Homo sapiens: one gene and its partners. The protein of the gene in region 4 interacts with the protein of the main gene of each other region in a pairwise test. Each region holds a gene or a part of one and is shown on either strand. Other genes may lie near its edges.

Evidence for each region.
Region 1: the proteins of NUDCD3 (region 4) and KLHL29 interact in binary tests that used the Homo sapiens proteins (3 or more experiments, as listed by UniProt).
Region 2: the proteins of NUDCD3 (region 4) and KLHL15 interact in binary tests that used the Homo sapiens proteins (3 or more experiments, as listed by UniProt).
Region 3: the proteins of NUDCD3 (region 4) and KLHL26 interact in binary tests that used the Homo sapiens proteins (3 or more experiments, as listed by UniProt).

What each region holds. Positions count from the first base shown.
Region 1 is NC_000002.12:23,703,158-23,709,115, reverse strand, and holds the end of KLHL29 (kelch-like protein 29), read right to left. Parts: intron 5,931-5,958; coding exon 5,737-5,930; intron 5,398-5,736; coding exon 5,253-5,397; intron 2,636-5,252; coding exon 2,452-2,635; 3' UTR 510-2,451; downstream 1-509.
Region 2 is NC_000023.11:24,003,161-24,010,190, reverse strand, and holds part of KLHL15 (kelch-like protein 15), read left to right. Parts: intron 1-3,490; 5' UTR 3,491-3,497; coding exon 3,498-4,202; intron 4,203-7,030. UniProt on the Homo sapiens protein: Substrate-specific adapter for CUL3 E3 ubiquitin-protein ligase complex.
Region 3 is NC_000019.10:18,633,156-18,640,027, reverse strand, and holds the start of KLHL26 (kelch-like protein 26), read right to left. Parts: upstream 3,001-6,872; 5' UTR 2,974-3,000; coding exon 2,891-2,973; intron 1-2,890. UniProt on the Homo sapiens protein: May play a role in endo(sarco)plasmic reticulum (ER/SR) mitochondrial signaling. May be part of the ubiquitin-proteasome system (UPS) and affect ubiquitination and degradation of target substrates in cardiomyocytes.
Region 4 is NC_000007.14:44,480,637-44,487,666, reverse strand, and holds part of NUDCD3 (nudC domain-containing protein 3), read left to right. Parts: intron 1-2,382; coding exon 2,383-2,699; intron 2,700-7,030.

The DNA of each region.
Region 1 (5,958 bases), on a different chromosome or scaffold from region 4:
GAGCCTGAGATCGCGCCATTGCACTCCAGTCTGGGCAACAAGAGTGAAACTCCATCTCAATAAAAAAGAAAAAAAGAAAAGAAAAGAAAAGAAATCACCCTGTATTCCTCTTCCTGGAGAAAGTGTGTTGTGTCTCCTCTTAGGCTCATGAGCTGGACTTGCCATGTGGCTCTAAGTGGGTCCCTGGCACAGCAGTGATACCAGTGGGAAGCTAACAGCTTTGAAGCTTTCAGTTGCACAAGTGTAATAAGAAGAGCACTTCAATGAAAGGAAGAGCCTCAGAGCCAGTGCCAGCGTGTTTGCAAGTCCCTTTCAACTTTTACCTTCAATTGTCTTCTTGGCTTTTCAACTCTAAACCTTCCCTCAATATGGAGTCCCATCCTTTCTAATCATTAAGTTCTGCACTAAAGTCTATAAGAGAACCCATACAGCTGATGTATGAGGGGTAGAACAGGTTTTGCATCCCTGTGGCAGGACGATGGCACACAAAGATTACGTTGGCTTCCAAGTCTAGATCTATAAATATATTTATTATAATATAACAAGAACTTAACAGTAAACATATACTATGTACAATACCATTACAGAGAACCCTGTTTTATATCATTCACAGAAATAGCCAGTTTTGCTCCAGTGTGATAGATGAGGAGAGAAACGAATTTCAATGTCATCTGTGTTGAGTCTCGCTGACAACTAGAACCTCCTTTGGAGGCAGACGCACACCAATGCTAACATTAGCCCTGCCCCAGGCAGTTAGGAATTTGTGCTCCAGTCCTTGGGTTCACACTTGCACCCTGTTTGACATAAATACTTTAAATGACATACAATGTATGTAGTTTTGTGCTTATTACTTTTTAAAATAATAAATAATATTAAAAACTGCATAACGAAGCTCGGTATCTTGTCCAAGTGGGAGCCACACTCGTAGTGCTAGAAGTTGATGCCCAACGTTAGAACTGGAATTTTGTGTCATCAAATACTGAACGATGGAAAGCGTGTCCTGTCTTTTTCTCTTATAAATGGTTGTTATCATGAAACGATGGCAAGTTGACTTCCCAGATATAAAAGTGGTAAATGTGTATTTGGTACCAACTTCAACTCAACAGCGCAGTGGCGGCAGCATTCTCCTGCCCTGGAATGGAAACTGTTGACCGTGTGAGGTTTGAGGGGCTAAGGACAAGTGGGAAGGCCTTTCCCTTTTGAGCCATGGTGTGACCTCCCTCCTGGCTTCCCTTTTCTCAGGTTCGTATGTGACAAGAAGAGTGGTTCTGTTCATGCCCTCAGGCCTTGCTGCCATGGCTCCACTAAGAAGGCTGTCCCCATCCTGAGAGCTCTTGTGGCAGGTGCCTTAATATATAGCTATGAATATCAAAAATAGTCTCCTGTGCTTTATAGACGCTAATTCTCCCTCCTTCCCTTCCCACTGGCCTGGTCCTCAGCTTGACCTCATGGAGGGAGCTGGGCCGGTGTCCTGAGCCAGAACCGGGCTCCTTCTAGAGCAGACTCTTCTTCCTTGGGCACAGCTTTTATGGGGCTGTCTGGGAGTTACTTTTTCTAAAAATAAAATGGGGGCATCGCCCACCCCAGGAGAGATCCTCTATTCTGCACATAGAAAAATGAGAGCAAAAGCCCCCCTCTGGCACTACCTACAAAGAGCTTTGGGAATTCCCACAACATTATCCCTCTTGTGGCCTGCTCCTCCTCTCAGTACTTAAAAATAGCCTTTTGTTTATCAAGAAAATGCCTCAGAAATCTAAATAATTCATACCGGGTAAGAGAAAGCTAGCGCAATCACTGTCCTTCTCCAGCAAAAACACAGTAGAAAAACCTGTGAAGGACAGACCGCTGTCCCTGCTCCCCGGCTGTCCCACAGCTGCCACCCCTGGCTCCGCGTGGGCAGCTGGGCTTCTCTTCAGCCCCAGTGGGGACCAGCAGCCTCCTAGGCCTTGTGATGCACAGTATTGTCCCTCGTTTTCTGTCGGCCACTGAAAGTGTAGATCGGTTAAAAAACAAAAGTAGGAATCAAAGTGATAAGGACACTTTGATCTTATTCCAAGAGAGCCTGATGCCTAATGTTGTCATAAGATAACTGATCTATGGTTGTTTAGGGATCAAGCTTGCTCTGCAGGAAGGAAAAAACAGCTTCTCTCTCCCAGTTGAAAAATACGTGAAACTCTATTGCACCTGGCAGAGCGAGCGCCCCTGTTCAGGAGGCAGCCAGCCCCATGGCGGGATCGTGGTTCCTGCGGCTCCAAGCGCGGTGCCTCCGTTTCATCCAAAGGCGAGGATGATTTTCTACATTCAATGTAGAGAATATTCAACATGTTGAGCGCAGTGAGTTCCTTGATTGTGTTTTGTTGGCCTCTTGTTGGTGTCGCTGGAAAATTATCATTGCGTGGCACTTGCCTCACCAGACTTGTCCACAGTCTTATCGTGGGCTTTCTGCTGATGTCAGCCGCTTTGAATATATTTCTTTATCACGACGCAGCCGTGTCTGAACACAGGGCAGGGCATGTGGGGGAGGAGGGTCCATGTGTTGGTTGTGGGCTCGTAGGCCTCCATGTTGCCCAGCGCGGGCCCTTCACTGCTGACAATACCTCCAGTTGCATAAATCTTGCCATCAAGCACCACAGCACTGTTGGGGGAAAGCGGGGACAGAGTTAGGCATTTCACTTCCAACTTGGCCCTGGAGATAGGTTCTCAACGTCGTGTCCTGTTGTAGGCTGCCTGTGCCTTTTGCAGAAGGCATCTGGGATCTTGCTGCCCTTCTTTGCCCTCTAACCTGGGCTGGCATAAGAAAAACACCTGTCCTCCAGGGCCAGTCAGGAAGCCGTGCTATGCCACCCTGCGAGCGGCAGAAGGCGCTCCCTCCCTGCCCCGCCAGAGTGACTAACCATGGCTAGGAGACGAAAGATCTCTGTGCGGGCACTCAGCTCAGGTCACTGAGGCTTTCTGGAGGCTCTTGTGTGGCACACGCAGCCTTCCTACTGCTCAAATCAAATTGGGAACATGACTCACAAGAATGACGAGAGAGAATAATAAGGAGCTCAGCTGGAATTGAATGTCAGCCACTTGACTGGGAGCTCCACCTGCCAAGGTGCTTCTGTGTGACCTGGTGCTGCTGCCCACCCAGGATTGCAAGGGCCGGGCATGCTCTGCAGGGTGACCGATGGCTGTGCCTGGACCCCTTCCCTGTGTGACACTCACTGGCTTGCTCCTGTTGTCTCAGTCAGCTCCTCTCATCATGAGGGCTCAGCATCTGGCCCCTCTCTGCACTGACTCCCTTAATGCATTTCAGCTACTTCTTTGCACTGACGTCCACATCCTTGTTTCTAGCCCTGACACTCTTTCATTTCAGCTAATGGCCATTTCTTCCTGGCTATTCCCTGACATTGGACACATACCTTTTCAAAGGCTCCACCCGTTTCTGAAATCTCTTAAAGAGAACACATCAGTCTGGACTTCTTACCAGACCCTGAAGCTTCCAGTCTTCTCTCCCTTAGTTCATGCCATCTGGGGCCCTCATATTTTCCTTCTGTGGTGCACCTATTACCTGATTATCTTGCAAGACCCAGCTTAACTCTGCCATTTGCCGTTAAGTCTTTCCCATTCTTTTTTTTTTTTTGAGACGGAGTCATACTCTGTCACCAGGCTGGAGTGCAGTGGTGTGATCTCAGCTCACTGCAACCTCCGCCTCCCAGGTTCAAGCAATTCTCCTGCCTCAGCCTCCTGAGTTAGCTGGGATTACAGGCGCCTGCCACCACACCTGGCTAATTTTTGTATTTTTAGTAGAGACGGGGTTTCACCATGTTGGTCAGGCTGGTCTTGAACTCCTGACCTCGTGATCCATTCACCTCAGCCTCCCAAAGTGCTGGGATTACAGGCGTGAGCCACTGTGCCTGGCCCTTTCCCATTTACTTCTAGTCTCAGAGAAGGTGCGAGCATCCTCCCAAGTGGAGCGCAATGCTCCAGTTGTCTGCATCAGTGGACGGGGTAGTCAGACTGTGCTCTGCACACTGCCACCATTAGGGTACATGACATGGAAGTATGGCTCAAGAATTGTGAAATCTCAGTCCAACAGGAGCTTAGCAGTTGTCTGGTCCAACCGCCTGTTTCACAGATAGAACTTCCTCAGAGAGGTGAAGGGATATGTCCAAGGTCACTGACATGCTAGTAGGAGGTTATATCTTTTCTAGCTATGCTACACAAACAATGGGCACTCTAAGTACTTCATGCTATTCCCACACTGAAGATTCTGCAGTTACCTCTACATAGGCACAAGATGTCTTCAGGAAGCATCTGCTATGGGAGTCCTGACAATGAGGTTTCTGAGGCCCCTTCTTTTTTGTGAGACGGAGTCTTTTCCTGTCACCCAGGCTGGAGTGCCGTGGCGCGATCTCGGCTCACTGCAACCTCCGCCTCCCGGGTTCAAGCGATTCTCCTGCCTCAGCTTCCTGAGAAGCTGGGATTACAGGCACATGCCACCACGCCTGGCAAATTTTTGTATTTTTAGTAGAGTCGGGGTTTTACCATGTTGGCCAAGCTGGTCTTGAACTCCTGATCTCAACTGATCCATCCGCCTCGGCCTCCCAAAGTGCTGGGATTACAGGTGTGAGCCACTGCACCTGGCCTTGGGGCCCCTTTTTATTCCTTGTTCCTCTTAGTCCAGGAAAGGATGGGGCTGGAAGAGCAGGGACTGGTGTCTCGCTGCCACAGGGCCAGAAAGCCTGGGGACCGAGCCACACTCAGCCCTCTACCTTCTCTGCCTGCAGGGGTGGGTTTGTGTGTGCTTTTGCCCAGTCAGCCTTTGGGACTCTGAGCACAGCTCCCAAAGCCATCAGGATCGTTCATGTCCTCAGAGCATTCCCCCAAGAAGTCACTTGTCCCTGTAGGGCATCACACAGCTCTGGCCTGGCACTGCCTTCTGTCTGTGATGGGGCAGGTGGTCCTGGGGGAAGCTGACCTCACCTCTCACTGAGAGCAGGGTAGCCTTGATGCCTTCAGGAAATGGTTCATTTCTGCTGGAGCTGGGGCCAGCTGGAGCCCCGGGGTTGGGCTCCTGGACCAGAGGCTGCCGTGGGCTCCACCCTACTGGTCTGGGCTAATGCCCACTCCTGTGGTTGGAGGGGGAGGGCCACTGCTCTGGGCCTGGGAATTGCTATGGTCACTGATGGCAGGAAATCATTGTGGTCACACCCCTCCTCCTCCCACTCCTCCGTCCCAGCCCTAGTCAAGGCGCCGCAGCCTCTCACCTGCAGAACTGGCGAGAGTGGTTCATGTTTGGGCCCGCCTTAATGTTTCCTTTCTCAGGGTCGTAGATGGTGGTAGCTCTGGCATAAGCCCCGCCCAGGATGAAAACGAAGCCATTGAGCGTGACAGCGGGGGCATACTTGTTGTCTGTGAGGAGAGCAGAGCAGGCAGGTCACGGCAGCTTGTCTTGGACTTCCCTCTCCTTTTCTTTCCCAGAAGACCCTCCAGGGAAGGAAGCTCGAAAGACTTCCAACAAGTGACTGATTGGCCTGGGGATGGGTCCGGGGCCTAGGGGAACCTGGAGCCTTGACTCACTTGCCCCTCTCCAGACACCTGAGCTGGGGGCTCGGCAACTCCTGCCACCCTCTAGATCTGGGTCTGCAGAGCTGTTGGGCTTAGCCTGACTTCTGGGCATGGGATACTGAACAAATCAGCAAGGCAGGGATGCGACCCTGGCCCTGGGCTGAGGACACCGCTGGTTCTCACCAATCATTGGGGACTCGATGAAGCTCCACGTGTTGGTCTGAGGAACGTAAGACTGGAGGACGCCGGCAGCTCGGCCTGCCTCGTTCACCCCACCAAACACGTAGATCTTGCCGCCACACACTGTGGCTGCAGCAGAGTGTACTGCCTTGGGCAGAGGGGCCACCGCCTCCCATTGGTTGGTGATGGTGTCGTACCTGCAGGAGAGGAGAAAAAGAGCCCAGG
Region 2 (7,030 bases), on a different chromosome or scaffold from region 4:
TGTAGACCAGTTTTGGATCAGGAACAGGTCCAAGTGGGGTGGGAGTAGGGTTTGCAATGGAATAAGTGGGGAGGTTGTAGGAGTTGAGATGGTCAGGGAGTTTTGACTTACAGTTTTTGGATGGCTGATCTTATGTGAACATTGAAGAGGTGTGAAAGATGACTTAGCCAGGTGTTGAAGTCTTTTTTTTTTTTTTTTTTTGAGATGGAGTCTTGCTCTGTTGCCCAGGCTGGAGTGCAGTGGTGCGATCTTGGCTCACTGCAGCCTCCGTCTCCCAGGTTCCAGCGATTCTCCTGCCTCAGCCTCCCAAGTAGCTGGGATTACATGTGCCAGCCACCACACCCAGCTAATTTTGGTATTTTTAGTAGAGAGGAGGTTTCTCCATGTTGGCCAGGCTGGTCTTGAACTCCTGACCTCAGGTGATACACCCTCCTCAGCCTCCCAAAGTGTTGGAATTACGGGCGTGAGCCACTGAGCCCGGCTTTTTTTTTTTTTTTTTTTTTTGAAAATGGAACCTCGCTCTGTCGCCCAGGCTGGAGTGCAGTGGTGCAGTCTTGGCTCACTGTGACCTCCACCTGCTGGGTTCAGGAGATTTCTCCTGTCTCAGCCTCCGGAGTAGCTAGGACTACAGGCGCCCGCTACCATGTGCGGCTAATTTTTGTATTTGTTTTGTATTTTATTTTATTTATTTTGAGACGGAGTTTCACTCTTGTCGCCCAGGCTGGAGTGCAGTGGTGCAATCTCAGCTCACTGCAACCTCCGCCTCCCGGGTTCAAGTGATTCTCCTGCCTCAGCCTCCCGAGTAGCTGGGATTACAGATGCCCGCCACCATGCCTGGTTAATTTTTATATTTTTAGTAGAGATGGGGTTTCACCATGTTGGCCAGGCTGGTCTCAAACTCCTGACCTTCAGGTGATCCACCCATCTCGGCCTCCCAAAGTGTTGGGATTACAGGCATGAGCCACCACGCCCGGCCTTTAATTTTTGTATTTTTAGTAGAGACAGGGTTTTACCATGTTGCCCAGGCTGGTCTTGAACTCCTGATCTCAAGTGATCCGCCTGCCTCAGCCTCCCAAAGTGCTGGGATTACAGGTGTGAGCCACCATGCCTGGCCCAGGTGTTGAAGTCTTCATCAAATGTTTGAGAGTGATTGATCAGAAGATGTGTATGGAAGTGACAAGGGGTGACAGAAGATGGATTTTTATCTGAGCAAAAGGCCAAGTTATAGAAAAAGAACAATAGAAAGCTAAGAGAAAGAAGACTTGGAAAGTAGGGCTGTAAGCTCTAAAAGTTTTTTTTTTGTTTTGTTTTTTTTTTTTCTAACACGCGTGGGAGTAGAGCTAGAGGTTGGAGGCAGGAGGCCTGGAAGCTGTGACTTTTAGGAAAACTATGTCTCATTTAAATCAGGTCGAGGAGGGAACTTTCTGTGACCAACCTGAGCATGTAGGGGATTTTGTTTACATTGAAGTAAGGTTCCACAGGGCACAGTGGAAAGGTTTGGGAGAGAATTCAGGGATGGAGGATGGGTCATTGGGGAGGAAGCCGGGAGCTGTGTAAGGATGAGAATTAAGAAGATAGATGGTCTGGGGTGGGGGTATGTGAAAAGGAGAAAATTAATTTGCTTCATAAATAACCCAGTAGACTGAATTAGTGGCCAGGCGCAGTGGCTCACGCCTGTAACCCCACCACTTTGGAAGGCCGAGTCAGACGGATCATCTGAGGTCAGGAGTTTTAGACCAGCCTAGCCAACATGGCGAAACCTGTCTTCACTAAAAATACAAAAATTAGCTGGGCGTGTAGCAGGTGCCTGTAGTCCCAGCTACTCGGGAGGCTGAGGCACAAGAATCGCTTGAACCCGGGAGGCGGAGGTTGTAGTGAGCCGAGATTGTGCCACTGCACTCCAGCCTGGATGACAGAGCAAGACTCCGAAAACAAAAAAATAGACTGAATTAGTTTATTCCGCTGTATTTAAGATATCTAATTATAGTTCTCTATTTTACCTTCATTTCTCTGATATGGAAAGATTTGGTTTAATTTCCTTTAAAATTATATATTTGTATTTTTAAATATATAAGCATTACATCATTATTGTTTTTCAAAGTAAGGGTAATGAGGTAAATGAAAAGAAAGCCTCTCCTGAAAACCTACTACCCAGGGACATTATTTTGGTATATATTTCTCCAGACTTTTTCTCATCTAACAAATATATGCGTATTTAGTTTTCGAAGACGTACTCAGTATACTGCAGTCACTTGTTTTTTTTTTCATACAATATCTGATAAATATTCTTTGTAAAAATAAACTGTTGACATCATTTTAAATTGATAATTTATTGTAGGACTGTATCATGTTTTAATAATTTGTTATTGGACTTTTGAATAGTTTCTGATTTTTAAATAATAAGCCTAGATAGAAAAACCTTATATGTACAACTTGCCTATTTATTTGAATATTTCCTTTAGGTAAATTTCTAGGAGTTTTCAGGTATACTTTTTAGTTTCATTTTTGTCCCTTTTCTCATTATTTAGTATTTGGCTGTGAAATCATTTTTATGTTGCTAATTTTGGAACCTGTTCAAAGTATATTTGATGAACAATATGAAATCAATGGAATAGGCATATATTATTTGTAAGATAACAATTTACCATTGTTTGATATATATATATATATATATATATATATTTTTTTTTTTTTTTTTTGGAAATGGGGTCTTGCTGTCTCCCAGGCTGGCATGTAGTGGCATGATCTTGGCTCACTGCAACCTCCGTCTCCCGAGTTCAAGCGATTCTCCTGTCTTGGCCTCCTGAGTAGCTGGGACTATAGGTGCATGCCACCACACCTGGCTACTTTTTGTATTTTTAGTAGAGTTGGAGTTTCATCGTATTGATCAGGCTGGTCTTGAACTCCTGACCTCAGGTGATCCACCCACTTCGGCCTCCCAAAGTGCTGGGATTACAGGTGTGAGCCACCGCGCCCAGCCGACATATATATTTTTAAGAGATAGGGTCGTGCTCTGTTGCCCAGGCTGGAGTGCAGTGGTGCTATCATAGCTCACTGTAGCCTCAAACTCGTGGGCTGAAGGGAATCTCCCACCTCAGCCTCTGAAGAAGCTGGGGCTGCTGGCAATGTGCCACCATGCCCAGCTACTTTTTTTTTTATTGTTATTATTTTGTAGAGACAGGGATTTGCCATCTTGCCTAGGCTGGTCTCCAACTCCTGGGCTCAAGCGATCTTCCTGCCTTGGCCTCCCAAAGTGCTGGGGTTATAGGCATGAACTATTGATGTATCTTTAATAGATTCTTTTCCTTAGATAGGGAAGCCAGAAATATTAGTCTGCAAACCTTTAGATTGTCTTCTCCCAAAGGACTTGTACATTTTGGACTTAGTCAGTAGAATTGAGATAATAGCAAAAATTGTTAAAACTCTAAGTTAATATTTTCTTCTGAATGCATGGAAGTGTTTAACATTGTTGTCTTTGATTTTTTTCCAGGTGATTCATGGCAGGGGACGTGGAAGGATTCTGTTCCTCCATCCACGACACCAGTGTCTCTGCTGGGTTCAGAGCACTGTATGAGGAGGGATTGCTTCTTGATGTCACTCTGGTTATTGAAGATCATCAGTTCCAGGCCCATAAAGCACTCTTGGCCACCCAGAGTGATTACTTCAGAATTATGTTTACTGCAGACATGAGGGAACGAGATCAGGACAAAATTCATTTAAAAGGTCTAACAGCTACCGGTTTCAGCCATGTCCTGCAATTTATGTACTATGGAACTATAGAGCTGAGTATGAATACCGTTCATGAGATTCTTCAGGCTGCCATGTATGTTCAACTTATAGAAGTGGTGAAGTTCTGCTGCTCTTTTCTCTTAGCGAAGATCTGCCTAGAAAATTGTGCAGAAATTATGAGACTCTTAGATGATTTCGGCGTAAACATCGAGGGAGTCAGGGAGAAGTTAGACACCTTTCTGCTAGACAACTTTGTGCCACTCATGTCTAGGCCTGACTTTCTGTCCTATCTGAGCTTTGAGAAGCTCATGTCTTACTTGGATAATGATCATCTGAGCAGGTTCCCAGAGATAGAGCTGTACGAGGCTGTGCAGTCTTGGCTGCGGCATGATAGAAGACGCTGGAGACATACCGATACCATCATTCAGAATATCCGGTTTTGCTTGATGACCCCAACCAGCGTTTTTGAGAAGGTTAGTGCATTTGAAAGCAATAGACAGTACTCATCATTTAGTTAAGGCAGTGTATGTCTTTATAGATAAGATTCACAGACTTAAGAGCCAAGAATGAATAACTTCATTTTGTTATTTCTTATGTTATTCAAGAATGAATAACATAAGAGTACTTTATGTATAAGAAGCCTGATTTGTTGTGCATTTAGGTTTTGTAAAATACATTTTGTGGGTGAAAGATAAACCACGTAGGTAGTAAAACAGTTTTATTTTAAAAGTACTTTTAAAGTTGAAGCATAATTACTTTATGCAAAATATTACATGTTTGCTGTAGCTTTTCTTTTCATTTCATCAATTAAATCGGAACCGAGTCAGGCTAGATCTCTTTTTAAAAATAAATTTAAGTAATACATGCAGAAATTGGCATTGAGAAGAGTTCTGCATGGTATACATTAATAGAGTTTCTTATTCCTCTAAAATATAGCAAGGACGTACAAAATAGCTCTTGAAAACCAATAGGCCCTAATGGTGATTTTCTTCCCTGCTCTTACCTTCTGGTTTTCCCCGTTTTACTGTGAATACTAACTAAATTTGACAATGAAAACATGTTATATGTCTAAAAACATCATTTTGGCATTTCTAAACAAGTAGACTATAACTCTTCTATCTACATTGATCAACCATCCCTGGGCACATTTTACCATGCAAATAGTTCTCTTAAAAATAGTCTTTCTCTGAAACAGCCTTGGCCTTTTTTTGCATGTAAGCATTTTCATTTTTATATCAGAGTTTCACTTGTGATCCTTTCTTGCCCAAAGGTCATAGAGCACTTTTAGTAATTGCTTAACTTAATTGGTTTCTAATCACATGGTTACCTCTGGGGCTCTGTTTACTTCTTGCATCTTCTCTTTTTTCTAGAAAGCACACTGAAAACTTGGTCGGTCACTTTTCATGTTAAATAGTTCCTCAGCTTTAGTTATTAGACCTGGTTATAAAAATACAGTATCTGCAAAGGAGGGTTGTCTACGCCATTTGAAAAATAAACCCATTTGCGCCTTTGAATAACAGCAGCCTGACATATTTTTTTTTCCTCCAAAATGCTGTGAAACTGAGAATTCAGTTTTGTGGATTTTTGTCTTTTATTCTCAATGTATTGATGTGGCAGAAATAATTGAAACTAAATTATATATATGTATGTATGTATTTTTTTTTTTTTTTTTGAGACAGAGTCTCGCTCTGTCGCCCAGGCTAGAGTACAGTGGCGTGATCTTGGCTCGCTGCAAACTCTGCCTCCCAGGTTCAAGCGATTCTCTTGCCTCAGCCTCCCGAGTAGCTGGGATTACAGGCGTCAGCCACTGTGCCTGGCTAATTTTTGTGTTTTAGTAGAGACAGGGTTTCATCATCTTGGCCAGGCTGGTCTCGAACTCCTGACCTCATGATCCACCCGCCTTGGCCTCCCAAAGTGCTGGGATTACAGGCGTGAGCCACCCCACCCAGCCAATAATGTATTTCTTTTATTTTTTGTTTAGTGATAATCAGCCCCACATCAATTATGTAAATCATTTGTCTCTGATGTTTTGATTTTTTTCCTATTGTTTTTATTGCTCTTTTTCCCTGGGGAATCCTGTTTTGTTTTGTTTTTGTTTGTTTTGTTTTGTTTTGAGAGGAGTCTCACTCTGGCCCTGGAGTGCAGTGCTGCGATCTCAGCTCACTGCAGCCTCCACCTCCTGGGTTCCAGCAATTCTCATGCCTCAGCCTCCCGAGTAGCTGGGATTACAGTTACCCACCACCATGCCTGGCTAATTTTTTGTGTGTGGAGATTCTTAATTCTTCCTTTGGTAGTAACAGATTTGAACAGTGACTTAATAGTGTAGGGAAGGGGGCATTCTGCCTCAACCCAAGGAAAAGCCCCCATTCGTTCTAGGGACACAAGTCATGTCCTCTAGCTGTGCTGAAATCTTTGGGTTTATCCTTCTGCAGTATCTATGTAGTCCTCTACTGGATTTTCTCCTTAGGTGAAGATAAGATTGTCTTAACTTTTTTTTTTTTTTTAGTATACTTTTTTCTTTTTTAATATTTAACTTTTTTTTGTAGAGATAGGGTCTCACTGTTGTCCAGGCTGGTCTTGAGCTGGCCTGAAGTGATCCTCGTGCCTCGGCCTCCCAGAGTGCTGGGATTATAGATGTGAGCCACCGTGCCTGGCCAGATTGTCTTAATTTTTGTACTAAGTATTCTGTGGGACCATCATCGAAGAGGCCAAGGCTTCCAAATTTCCTGAGTTCCTTAGAGGCAGCAATACTGTTTATCTGAACACTGCATGTGCACACGAGCACACACACACACACACACACACACACACACATATATTTATGCTAGGTCATGTACTAAGTGCTCTTACCGTACATATAGGTAGCATCTACATGGTTTTTTTTTGTTTTTTTTTTTTTGGTTTTTTTTGAGACGGAGTCTCACTCTGTTGCCCAGGCTGGAGTGCGGTGGCACGATCTAGGCTCACTGCAAGCTCTGCCTCTCAGGTTCACGCCATTCTCCTGCCTCAGCCTCCTGAGTAGCTGGGACTACAGGCACCCGCCACCACGCCCGGCTAATTTTTTTGCATTTTTTTTTTTTAGTAGAGACGGGGTTTCACTGTGTTAGCCAGGATGGTCTTGATCTCCTGACCTCGTGATCCGCCTGCCTCGGCCTCCCAAAATGCTGGGATTACAGGGGTGAGCCACCGCGCCTGGCCATGCATCTACATGTTATCCCCATTTTATAGATAAGGAAACAGGCACAGAAAGGTTAAGGATCTTATTCCAGACCAAGTGGCACTGTCCAGACTGAAAGCCAGG
Region 3 (6,872 bases), on a different chromosome or scaffold from region 4:
TTGTTTATTTTCACTCCACAGTGAAAAAGAACAAATTTCTGATACAACAACACAGATGAACTTCAAAAACATTATGTTAAGGAAAGAAACCAGACGTAAAGGCCACATGTCTGATTCCATTCTTACGAAATTTCTAGAAAAGGCAAAGCTACAGAGAGTGAAAGCAGATCAGGATGTCCCCGGGGCTGTATGTTGGTGGAGCAGGGTTAATTGCAGACGAGCTTGGGGGAACTCTTTGGGGTGATGGAAGCATTCCAAAAAACTGGATTGTGGTGAAGGATGCACAACTCAGTAAATGTACTGAAACTTAATGACCTGGGTTGAGCACAGTGGTTCACACCTGTAATCCCAGCACTTTGGGAGGCTGAAGCGGGCAGATCACTTGAGGTCAGCAGTTCAAGATCACCCTGGCCAACATGGCAAAACCCCGTCTCTACTAAAAATACAAAAATTAGCTGGGCATGGTAGCATGCACCTGTGGTCTCAGCTACTCGGGAGGCTGAGGCAGGAGAATTGCTTGAACCCAGGAGGCAAAGGTTGCAGTGAGCCGAGATCACACTACTGCACTCCAGCCTGGGCAACAGAGTAACTCTATCTCAAAAAAAAAAAAAAAAAAAAAAAAAACTTAATGATAAATTAAAATGAGTGAATTGGCTGGGTGCAGTAGTTCACGCCTGTAATCCCAGCACTTTGGGAGGCCGAGGCGGGTGGATCACCTGAGCTCAGGAATGCCAGACCTGCCTGGCCAACAGTGAAACCCTGTCTCTACTTAAAAAATACAAAAATTAGCCAGGCATGGTGGCGGGCACCTGTAGTCCCAGCTACTCAGGAGGCTGAGGCAGGAAAATCCCTTGAACCTGGAAGGCAGAGGTTGCAGTGAGCCGAGATTGCGCCACTGCACTCCAGCCTGGGTGACAGAGCAAGATTCTGTCTCAAAAAATAAATAAATAAATAAAAACAAAATGAGTGAATTGTATGCCATGCAATTAATTATATCTTGATAAAGCTGTTTATAAAAAAAGAGCCATGCCCAGCATGGTGGCTCACATCTGTAATCTCAGCACTTAGTGAGGGGTGAGGCAAGAAGATTGCTTGAGCCCAAGAGTTTGAGACCAGCCTGGCAACAGAGCAAGACCTGGTCTTTACAAAAAATTTAAAAATTAGCCAAGTGTGGTGGTGCACACCTGTAGTCCCAGCTACTCAGGAGGCTGAGGTGGGAGGATCACTTGAGTCCAGGAGTTTGAGGCTGCGGTGAGCCTTGGTGGCGTCACTGCACTCCAGCCTAGATACCTGGGTGACAGAGCGAGACGGGGTTTCAAAAAAATAAAAATAAAAAAAGCCCTAGCCCCAGGTTATCCCACTCCAGTGCCCAAGGCAGGGACCTGGGGTTCACTGTCCCTCTTCCCTGTCCCTTACTTGCCAACTGATACCCAATTTTCAAGCCCTGGCCACTCCCTGAATATCTCTGAAAATCCTCTGACATCTCCTGGCTCCCTACTGCAGGACAATCTTGCCCCACACCTACCCCAGGAGGCTGGTCACCCCTCTGGACACACACCTCCTGGGTTCCCCATGGCCCCTCTGGCAGACCAGATTCAATGCCCACAGACCTAAGTCTCAAGGTGCCACTCAGCATCCTCAGGAACAGGCAGGGCCTTTGCCTCCTCTGTGCCCTGGCCCAGCCATCCCTCCTCCCTTCCCCACCCATCCCATGCGTGTTCCATTCAGTACCAAATCACACAGCCAGGCCATCAGGCCATTCCCTCCAACAATCAGCCCACAGGTCCAAAACTCCACAGCACGTAAGTATCAAACAACTTCATCATTTATCATGTTGCCTGAAATTACTGGCTCCTGGAAGCTCACCAGCAAGAAAAAGCCTGAATTTCCTCCTTGGCCTGACCTGGGTGCTGGGCTAGAGGAGGAGCTGGGGTGGGAGGGTCTGGCTTTGCCCAATAGGAAAAGAGCAGGAGATCACACTCCTAAGGCAGGTGTTCTTTCCCTCTGACAATCCAATACAATGCATGCACACACATATCATTAGTTATTGATGATAACTAATTGTCATGCAAACCTGGACGTTCAAGCAATCCATGTCAGGACTGGGCCATGGGGAAAGGGGGCCTCCCTCTGACCAAAGGGGTGAATTCTGTCCCCTTGTCTGAGGGCAAGACCTTTCTGTAAGTCCTTTAGCCTGTTGGGGATGTGGATTTGGACCCCATGGGGATGGAAGGGAGGAGCCCCAAAGAAGAACCCTCTGTATGTTCTTTATAAACCCCCTGGAGTTCTCTCACCCCCCTCAGGTTCCCTAGACCCACCCCAGGCCCCCTCAGCCTCCCCATCTCAGACTCCCAGATTCACCTAAGTCCCCCACCCAGAGCCTCCCACAGTCTCTACTCCTTCCAGCGCCCCTCAGCACGCTCTCAGGACCACCTTTAGCCACCTTGGGGCCCTTCAGCACCTCCCAGGATGCCTTGGGCCTTAGCCCCTTCCTCAGAGCCCCCAAGACACCTCACCACCCTCAGACTGGCCATGGCATGGCCCCTGCTCAGGCCCTCTCTGCTGCCCAGGCCCTTTGGCATCCCCAGTTGCCCCACGGCCCACCACAGTCAAGAGCCCCTCGGTTTCCCTTCAGACCCCCAGGATTCTCAGGTCCCTAGGGCCGCCTGCAGACGCCTCGAGGTCCTGGGGCACCCAGCCCCCCTCCAGCCACCCCCTCAGTAGCCCTCGGCTCCTCCAGTACCCCACGGCCCCGTAAAGTCCAAATTCTCAGCGAAAGACCCTCGAGCCGTGCCAGGCCTCCCCTCAACCCCTCAGGACGCCCAAGACTGCCCACAGGTTTCCTGGGCTCCAAGACAGGTGCAGGTCTATCCTGCGGGCCGGGTCTCACCTGTTCGGGCGCTCGGGGCCCGGGCCCGCGCCGAAAGCGCCGCCGCCACCAGCACCACCGCTGCTACCGCCGGACTCCGCCATCTTCCCCCCGCCGTCGCGCGTTCGAGTGACGGGAGCCGCGCGCGCAGGCCCGGGAAACCGAGACGCGGGGGGCGGGGCGGGGCCAGGTCTGCGGAGGGGCGGGGCCGGGACCAGAAACCAAGGATTGGGGCGGGCCCGGAATCGGAGGGGCGTGGTCTACGGAGGGCCGGGGCGGGTCTGGGATAAAGGGAGGGGCCTGCTATGCAGAGAGGTGGGTCCAGGGCGGGGCCTGGGCTAGGGGTGCCGGATTGGGGCGGGACCCTGGCGTGAGGGGCGGAACCAAGTCTGAAAGGGAAGCGGTTCTGGGCTGAGAGGGCGTATTGTCTGTGGATAGGTGGGGACGGGGCGAAGCAGGACAAGTAGGCGCAGGATGGGGTTGGTCCCTGGGCTGAGGAGTGGGGCGGGGTCTGAAGAAGGGGCAGGCCCAGGGCAAGAGGAGGAGGGACAAGGGTCCGGCCTGCGGAGGAGGCGGGGCGCAGGATAAAGGGCGGGGCCAGGTGTGAGAAGGGACAAGGTGGAGGTTAGGAATGCGGTGGGGGAGTGGTCGGGGAGGTAGAAAGGAGAAGATGGGTCTGAGGTTGGGCGGGTCTGGGCAGGAGAGAGGAGGAATCTGGGGATGGATGTGGTCAAGCGAAGAGAGGGCCTGGTCTGAGGAAGGGCGGGGCCTGGGCGAGGGGTGGAGTCTGGTTGGAAGGAGGGCGGGGAAGATCAGGGGTGTGTGCGTGGAGGGGGCGAGGGATTGGCGGGGCCGGGGGGGCGGAGCCTCATCTGATGGGGGTGGGGCCGGGCTAAGTGAGCGGCGGATCTGAGGAGGGGCGGGGCACGTGCAGGTGTTAAGGAGTGTCTGTGAGTGCCCTGGGGCGCTGGCAGGCGTGCCCCGGGCGTTGGCTGGGCGTGGTTATACTTTGAGGCGTTGGAGCCACAGGGAAGTGAGTTATAGGTAGGGTGGGAGGGAGGGTGAGATGGAGCATGGAGAAATGGGTCTCTAAGCTCTGAGAACCACACCCTCCCTCTCCCCACCCTGCACACCCCGACTCCAGTCTTACCTCCTTCCCAGGCCTCTCTCAGGGGCGAAACTCACCCATGCCCAGGCCTCAGACTTCCAGCCCCTCATGGTTCCCCACCCTCCCCTGACATACCCTCTTCAGAGCCTCCACCCTGAGACCCCAATCATCTGGCCTTAGGTTCCCACCACCTGCTTCATACACCAATTCTGGTTTCTCATACTCTAAAACCCTGCACATCCAATTATCTCCCATTCTCTACTCAAAACTCATCTCCCACTCCCCCAAATCCCTGCCCACAGATCCTTCAAACCTTACACTCCCAAAGTCCATTCCACCGGACCCAACACCCTCAGATCCCCAAGCACCAGCCCTCCCAACACACTGACCCTCAGCCAGGGCTCAAAGTCCTGCATCTATAGGCGTCTATGAAGCATCTAGACCTTTTGGGGGCACCCCTCACCCCCCATCTCTGGTAAGCTCCAGGCTCCCAGGATCCCCTCTGTAGCTTGGAGCTCATTTATTCTTTTAACCTCCAAGTCAGAAAACTCTGACTTGTGCAGTCTTGGGCAGAAAGCAGTGATCCAGAAGGAGCTCAAAGCCTTCTTTCCCGTCAGTGCTGGAAGAAGGAGGTGGCTATGGGGCTGGAGACCCCATAGGAGGAAGGAAGGGGCCTGCTTGAGTGGACTCCTGCAGGTTGGACCGCACTCAACCAGCATCTCCAACAGAGGGCCTGATACAACAATACGTGCTCAATCGTTACACAAAATGCTCTCAGATGACCCTGTGCAAGCTGACAGATACCAAGTGCTGAAGGGAACTGCTGGCATCTCCAATACACAGTAAGCACTCTGCAAATGTTGAATGCACGCGTGCATGAACAGCTCACGTTCCGGCAAGCTCTGCACACACACACACACACCCTTGCCTGCCCTAAGTCAGCACCGCCCCAGGAGTCTTTGTTCCAGACGAACCACATGCAGGCATCAAACCTCACTCAGCAGCGACCTACAGCTGACACACCCGCCACAAATAACATTTGAAATCAATGGTGTCCATATGCACGCACACTTCATAAACATCCAGATTTGACCCATATGTCAGACACACAAGACACACAGCTGAAGATAAGAAAGAAGAGGTTCTCTGGGCTCCTGGCTGTGCACACACACATAGTGTGCTGTAGACTCACTGCACTTTGGACACACTGTGTGATCTGTCCTCCACGATCACATAGCACAGGGCAGCCAGTGCAATGTCCCTGGGGCAGGAGCGTGCCTAGAGAGTGGCCTGGCAGAGAAAAATTAGGAAGAGGGAGAGGAGAGGGGAGGAGAATGGGTGGGAGGCAACAGGAGGTGCTTCAGGTCACAGAGGGCTTTGGGGATCATTTTTGGGGTCCTCTGCATGAAATGAGAAGGGAGAGGGGGCTTGTAAGCAGTGGCAATGTAATTGACACTGGGTTTTTGTTTTGTTTTGTTTTGTTTTGTTTTTGAGACGGAGTCTTGCTCTGTGGCCCACCCTGGAGTGCAGTGGTGCGATCTCAGCTCACTGCAACCTCCGCCTCCTGGGTTCAAGCCATTCTCCTGCCTCAGCCTCCTGAGTAGCTGGGACTACAGGCATGTACCACATGCCTGGCTAATTTTTTTTTTTTTTTTGAGATGGAGTCTCACTCTGTCACCCAGGCTGGAGTGCCGTGGCACAATCTCAGCTCACTGCAATCTTCGCCTCCCAGGTTCAAGTGATTCTCCTGCCTCAGCCTCCCGAGTAGCTGGGACTACAGGCATGTGCCACCACGCCCAGCCAATTTTTGTATTTTTAGTTGAGATGGTTTCACCATGTTGGACAGGCTGGTCTCAAACTCCTGACCTCAAGTGATCCACCTGCCTTGGCCTCCCAAAGTGCTGGGATTACAGGAGTGAACCACTGTGCCCAGCATAATTTTTGTATTTTTATTAGAGACGGGGTTTCACCATGTTGGCCAGGCTGGTCTCGAACTCCTGACCTCAAGTGATCTGCCCGCCTCAGCCTCCCAAAGTGCCAGGATTATAGCGTGAACCACTGCACCCAGCTGACATTGGTTTTAACAGTGTCAATTTAACAGTGTTACAGTGTCTGACTGTTCAACAGTGTCTGACAACTGGGGGACAATATCTTGAATTTGGGACATGAGTCAGGAGGCATATAATCCAGGGAAAAATGGGTAGGGCTCATCCCAGGGTGACAGACATGGAGGGGTGGGAGGTAGTCCTAGTTGAGATGCACTTTGCAGGTGGGACCAAAAAGAGATGGAACAGATGGGATGTCGAGTGAGGCAGAGTGAGGCCAGTGACCTCTGCCAGAGCTGTTGGCCTGAGCTCTAGAGGCCACTATCACTGGCATGGAGCAGAGACAAGTGGAGGACCTGGAGGGCCCACGCCGGTGACTGCACACGCCTCATCCAGTAATGATGACCTGTGGTCTAGCAGAGCCGGCAGGCAGGGACATAGCAGGCAGCATCCACGGGCCTGGCCACCATCTGGCCCACAGCTGGCACGGCTCTCCTAGAGGCAGGGCCCGCGCCACCTGCTCTCCCACTTCAGACCAGCTGCAGGGCTCACACCCTCAGGTCAGAGCTTGGAGGCCTCCCTTACAATCCCCAGGTGTTATGGAGGAGGAAAGTGAAGCCTTGGGGGAGGGCTTCAAGTTCCTGTGGTTTTAGGCTGGGGACAGTGTCTGCCCCATCAGGCAGTCACCACGGAGTGGTCCTGGGGCAAGCCCAAGGTCCCCCGACATCAACTCCCTGTCCTCAGTCCTGTTTGATTTTTCTCCTATCTAACAAACTCTGTGTTTTACCTTTTTTTTTTTTTTTTGAGACAGAGTCTCGCTCTGTCACCAGGCTGGAGTGTAATGGCACAA
Region 4 (7,030 bases):
ACCTGTTCTTTTATCCACAAAAGCTCATTTGACAGGAGGTTTGTAAAGGTGATTTCAGTATTGACAAGGGTTTTATTGTGGGGTGGGACAACACTGAATGAGACTGAGTGACTTGGTACCAGCATAACATTATTTCTTCGTGGTAGTAGGTGATCTCCTGACCTCCCCACTCCTACTCATCTGCCTCTTAGGGTTTTTTTTTTTTTCTGTCCCTAACTTGATGGCATAAGACTCCTTCCTGGGGTCTGCCTCTCCACCCCCACCAGATGTGGGATGCTTGGTGTCTCTGCTGAATATAGGCAGAGAAGAATTTGGATGGGAGTGCTGGGCTGCATCATTGTGGAACTTCAAAGCGTTCCCTTAATATTTTGGGGAGTACAGTGTTGGTGTAGAGTTAGGCAGCTCATACGTTTCCTTTTAAAAGTTTGCATAGCCTGGATACACAGCTTGAAGAACCTCAGCAGGAATGATGTATGTGAAAATTGCATTCCATTTTATAATACATTAGTATGTTTTAAGACAAAAATCGTTTAGACTGACAAGCCATTCATTATAATCGATAATGCTGTTTTTTTTGGAGTCCACTTTGAGAAGTGCTCCTTTGTAGAAGTCCTTGAAACTAGAATCAGGAAAGCTAGCTACATCCTGTTCCTTACATAAATTGTTGAGAAATCTTGGGAGAGTCACTTCACCTCTTGTCAGCTGAGAAGATTGATTGGAGGTTACAGATTAGAGTTCTCTTCCAGCCCTATGTTCTGTGACTCTAGAATGAGTACTGAGAACATGTGATAGTTGGGAGGTTGGCAGTGGTAGCACTTCCTGGTGGTGTGAATGGGTAGGTCAGAGAAGGCTGGATGTACTGAGTGAGCAGAGGCAGCTGCATGGTGAGGACTATCAAGTCTGGGGGTTCTGTGTTCGAAGTCTCAGGTGTTAGGAGAGAGAGATCTTGTTGCTTTGCTTTTGTGGAGTTAAGATGAAGATCTGGAGTATCAGCAGGATGAGCAACTCTGAAAGCATGGACTCAAAGCGGTAGAGACCCTAATGTTAGAATGAAGTCAGGGCTTCAGGTTATCTGCAGAAGTAAAAATGGTTCTGGTGTTGTTTCCAGTTTTTAACCTTTTAGGATTTTATTGATTTTTTTTTTTCCCCTCTGCCTACATCATCATCTCCCCACACTGTTTGGTGTGTGCTGCGTAGTTTTTTACTTCTTTTGCCAGCAGGAGCTGGGGCAAGTTACGTAACCTTTCCAAGCCTTATTTTTTTCTCATTTTTGAAATGTTGATGCTGTCTTCTTCACAGTATTTTTGTGAGGGTTTTGAGAGAATGTTTGTAAAATAATTTGACACAGTTAGTCTGTTAGCACCCTTTTGACTGCCCGCGCAGTGCACAGAACATTGTTATTTAATACCTGTCCGCATTCTAGCCCTTTGGAATCTGACTCCCACCCATGTCCCAGGTTGCTGTCTCAGCCTTTCCTTCCTCCAGTTATTGCAAGAGCTTTTGCCCTTCCTTGACAAGCCTATTCTTAGAGCTGTGGCATTTCCTCCAGTGGTTCCCTGTGGAAGATGTGCCTCTCATTCAGGGTCTAACTGGGATCCTCCTTGTTCCAAGAAGTCTCCCTAGATTTCTTTCGCCAGACATGCTCATTCCCACCCATACCCTGACAGGGAATTGAGGGCCTTGTCATGCCCCCTCTTGTATCAGAGTTTTCATGTGTGGGTATGTCTTGACTGTACTTTTTTGGTAGAGAGGTCCCAGCACCTTCATGGGTGTGACTGTTTCCCAGAAAATGTTAAGAACTTGTTTACACACCAGAATTTTGAGTTCTTAGGAGGCAGCAGAAATCATTTTGATGTTTTTTGTGCGTGCGTGTTTCTTGCACACTGTAGGCGCATAGTAGATGTTTGTTGAATTGAATGTCCATGCAGTGTGGTGAAAAACAGCAGCAGTCCTGTAAACCTGGTTCCATTTTGGGAATTGAAGTTCAGCCATATTTTCATGTTTCATTTGTGAGTCTGAATTTTGGTGCCTTTATAACCCACAGTTGTACCAGGACCGTGTATTCTTTGCATTGTGAACAAGACTGGGGTCTGTAAAATAATGACAACAAAGACCATCTAACTGTACATCTTTTAGGTATGTAAATATTGTTAGCCTTGGCTTATAAGTTTCTGATTTTGTTGATTTTGGAATCCTCCTGTTAAACACTGTTTACCTGTCAGCTTTTGGTGAAGTGGCAGTGCATTTCCATTTTGCCAGTGGGAAAACTTGTCAGTTTCTGACTTTTAGTTCTCTCCTTCACAGATTTTACGACATTTCTACAAGATATGTGGTACAGTATTGGGCAGATGAACTGATTGCTGGATTGGTGTTTGATTTTAGGTATTCAAAACCTTTGACCACATGGCCCGTCAGGATGATGAGAAGAGAAGGCAGGAACTTGAAGAGAAAATCAGAAGAAAGGAAGAGGAAGAGGCCAAGACTGTGTCAGCTGCTGCAGCTGAGAAGGAGCCAGTCCCAGTTCCAGTCCAGGAAATAGAGATTGACTCCACCACAGAATTGGATGGGCATCAGGAAGTAGAGAAAGTGCAGCCTCCAGGCCCTGTGAAGGAAATGGCCCATGGTTCACAGGAGGCAGAAGCTCCAGGAGCAGTTGCTGGTGCTGCTGAAGTCCCTAGGGAACCACCAATTCTTCCCAGGTGGGAATTTCTACTTTGCAGCTTCCTTCTTTCTTGCGTAACATCTGGTGTTTGGGTTTCTCCATAATTTATTCTTACTTTGTAACACATTAATTCTTGATCTCAGTATTTATTTAGCTCTTCATGTTTGTAAACTGCTGCATTACAGTCTTTCAGTTATGTAGGATGGGAGGTCAGTTGGCTTAAGGTCAGTTCCCTCATTTGGTAAGGTCAGTAGTCATACAACCATTTGAGATCCAGAGCCAAAATTAGAGCACTTGACTCCTCTCACAAAGACCTAACTTTATCTGTGTTTAGAGGCTTAGCCTCAGCAGCTCGATTGTTTGTGTTTTTCTCTCTGCAGGAGCACTGCTAGGATTTGCTCATGATGCCTGAGGTATAATGGACACCTGAAATGACAGTCTGTTTTAGGTGACTGGATTCACATCCTCGCTATGCCGCTTCCTGAATGTATTACCTTGAACAAGCAGTATAACCTTTCTGTGTCTCAGTTTTCTTCTCTATAAAATGTAGGTGATAATAATAGTACCTGTCTCATAGAGCTGTTGTGAATTTTAAATGAGCCGATAGTCAAGCAGCTAATGAGCAGTAGAGCTTGAATATGACATGAGGTTTCCCTGAATCAAGCCTCTTGCTTTATGTACTTGTACTCACTTTTTAGGAGTTATGTTTTGTGGGTGCTCTAAACTTAGTTATACAGTCCTTCCTTACAGTCTGAGTGAGAGGAGCTGATCCCTTCTTGTGTGGGAGTTGTAGTAGTGTCTGCAAGACAGCCACGAGCCTCCTGGCCTGCTTTGTTTTTTTGGAAAATTCACTCTCTTCCCTCCTTGATAGGATGGGTCACCTGTGTGCCCCCAAATCCCTGCCACCTTGAGTTCTCTTCTGTTTTTCTCACTCCTTTACTCTCTTTCTGACGTGTTTTGGGGGAGATTGTGTGTGTGCGTGCACACTTTTTAATAGAGACCGGATCTTACTCTGTTGGCCAGGCTGGAGTGCAGTGGTGTGATCATAGCGCAATATATGAATTGAACTCTTGGGCTCCAGCAATCCTCTCGCCTCAGCCTCCTGAGTAGCTGGGACCATAGGCATGCACCACCACATCTGGTTAATTTTGTAATTTTTTGTAGAGATGTCTGCCACTATACCTGGCTAAATTTTAAAAATATTTTCTTGCTGTATTGCCTAGGCTGTGGGGGAGTTTTTGTTTTTTTTTCTAGTTAATGAAGCAAAGTGAACAACTTGGAATGGCTTATAAAATATGGAGTAAGAGAAAATAAGTTTTGTAAAGACAGGAGGGGCAAGATTGCAGAGTCTTAAAGTCCAGGCTAACTAATGGAGTTCGAAGAAAACAATTGTTTGATGGCAGAACCAAGCTGATGGAGAAGGGGAGCAGCTCTTGAATATGGAGCTCTGGATGAGAAGGGGTGAAATAAGGATTTAGAGATTGGAAGTGGGGAGTATAGGGTGGAAGGCAGACATCTGATATTTCCTTGCAGATCTTTTTAAAATATTTTTTATAGTGCAGATCTGCTGATAGTGAATTCTTTCAGCTTTTTTGTCTGAAAATGCCTTTATTTCATCTTCCATTTCTGAGGATATTTTTGCTGGATATAGAATTGCAGGTTGACACTTTTTTTTTGTTTTTGTTTTTCTTCAAACATTTTAAAGACTATCATTCCATTGTCTTCTAGCTTGCACTGTCTCTGATGAGAAGTGAGTAGACATTCTTTGTTCCCCTGTGTGTGAAATATCCCCATTCTCTTGTTATATCAGTTCCTTGAAGTTATTATCATTAGTTTGAGCAATTTGATTAAGATTTACTCATGCATGATAGTCCTTGTGTTTATACTATTGGGAGACTTTTGAGCACACACACACATACACACACACACACACACACTTAGGAGGTCTGTTTTCTCTTTGTCCTTCCTTTGGAATATTTTCTGTTGACCTGTCTTCAACTTTACTGTCTTTTCTCCTTTGGTGTCTAATCTGTAGTTAAACTCATCTAGTAACTTCTTAATTTCAGATAGTTTATTTTTTAGCCCTGCAGGTTCCCCTTGATTGTTTTTTATGGCTTCAATTTCTACCTTGGTTTTCCTTTAAATCCTTCAATATACTTACAATAGTTTAAAGTCTTTATCTGCTAATTCCATTATCTCTGTGATTTCTTGGTTTGTTTCTAGGGATTGAGTTTTCTCCTGATTTTGGGTTACATTTTCTTTTTCTTTCAAATGTCTGATAATTTTTTATTGGATGCTAGACATTAATGGATGTTATGCTGTCGAGTCTCTGGGTTTTGATTTCTTCTGTTGAGTGTTGAGTTTTGTTCTTGCAGGCAATTAATTTATTTGCTGATCAGAATGATCTTTTTGAAGCTTGTTTTTTATTTGTATTGATTGATCAATTGATTGTAGAGATGGAGTCTTAATATGTTACCCAGGCTAATCTCGAACTCCTGGTCCCAAATGATCTTCCCACCTTTGCTTACCAAAGTGCTGGGATTATAGGTGTGCACCAATGTGTCTGGCCTTGTTTTTCAGCTTTGTTAAGCTGTATCTAGGGTACTTTTATTTTAAAGCTAGCTTAGTCTTCTAAGACATGCCTTTTTGGGGCTTCTGAGTGCTCCAGCTGTTAGTGAGGTCTTTCCATTCTGACTGGTTGAGGCTTGAACGTCTCCCAGCTCTAGGGATTGTCCATGTCAGTTACCCAGGTTTCCTACTTGTCTCATGGAGTTGCACTTTACACATGTGCAGTTTTGTATTCAGCCAAAGACTCAAGGGGATCCTATGAGGTTTTTTGGAGTTCTTTCTATGCGCAGCCTCCTTACTAGTAGTCTTTCTGTAAAATAATCAGATGTAAGAATGAAGATTTAATATACAAAGTTGTTTGTCATAGTCCACTTAGGCTGCTATAACAAAATAATATAGCCTGGGTGGCTTATAGACTACATAAATTTATTGCTCACAGTTCTGGATACTGGAAGTCTAAGGTCAAGGTACTGGCAGATTCAGTGTCTGGTGAGGGCCCACATTCTGATTCGTAGTTACCTTGCTGTGTCCTCAAATGGTGGAAGAGGTGAGAGAACTCTCTCAAATCTTTTATGAGGGCACTAATTCCAGTCATGAAGGCAGAGCCCTGATCACCTCCCAAAGTACTCATCCCAATATCTTGGGATTAAGATTTACCGTAGGAATTTTGGGACACAAACATTCAGTCTATAGCATTGTTCACTTCAGTTCTATTTATTCCAACATTACTTATATTAGCAAAATTTTGGAAGAATGCTGAATTTCTGTAGTAAGGGAATGGAGAAATACATTTATAAAATGCTTTTAAAGACTACTGACATGGTTATTGTGATGGTCAGTTTCATTTGTCAGTTTGGCTAAGTTACAGTCCTGGTTATTCAGTCAAACACTCATCTTGGCATGGCTGTCAAGGTATTTTGTGGATGTGATGCAAGTTAATAATTGGTTGACTTTAAGTAAGGGTGATTGTCCTAGGTGATCTGAGTGGGCCTGATCTATCAGCTGAAAGCCTGAAGAGCGCAGCAGAGCTCCCCTGAAGTAGAAGAAATTTCTCCGATGGACAGCAGCTGCACTCAGTTTCTGGAGAGTTCCACATTGGCCTGCTATGTGGATTTCAGACTGGCCTAGCCAGCCCCCACAATCATGTAAGCCAATTTCTTGCAGTAACTCTCTTAATAAATACACTTATCCCTTGGTATCTGCAGGGGATTGGTTCCTGGTCCCTCGTGGATACCAAAATTCATGGATGTCTAGGTCTCTTATATAAAACAGTATAATATTTGTGTATAACCTATGCACATTCTCCCATAGACTTTAAATTATGTCTAGATTACTTACAATCCCTAATACAATGTAAATGCTATGTAAATAGTTGTTACACTGTATTATTTGGGGAATAATGACAAGAAGTTTGTACATGTTCAGCACAGACAAAACAATCCATTTTTTTTTTTTTTCAAATTTTTGGATTTTTTTTTTTTTTTTTTTTTTTTTTGATACTGGGTCTTGCTCTGTTGCCCATACTGGAATGCAGTGACATGATCTTGGCTCACTGCAGCCTCTGCCTTCTGAGCTCAAGCGAGCCTCCCACCTCAGCCTCCCAAGTAGCTGGGACTACAGGCGTGCACCACCTTGCCCAGCTGATTTTTGTATTTTTTGTAGAGATAGGGTCTTACCATGTTGCCCAGGCTGGTGTCGAACTGGTGAGCTCAAGTGATCCACTCGCCTCAGCCTCGTAAAGTGCTGGGATTATAGGTGTGAGGCACCATGCCTGGCCATTTTTTGGGAATATTTTTGATC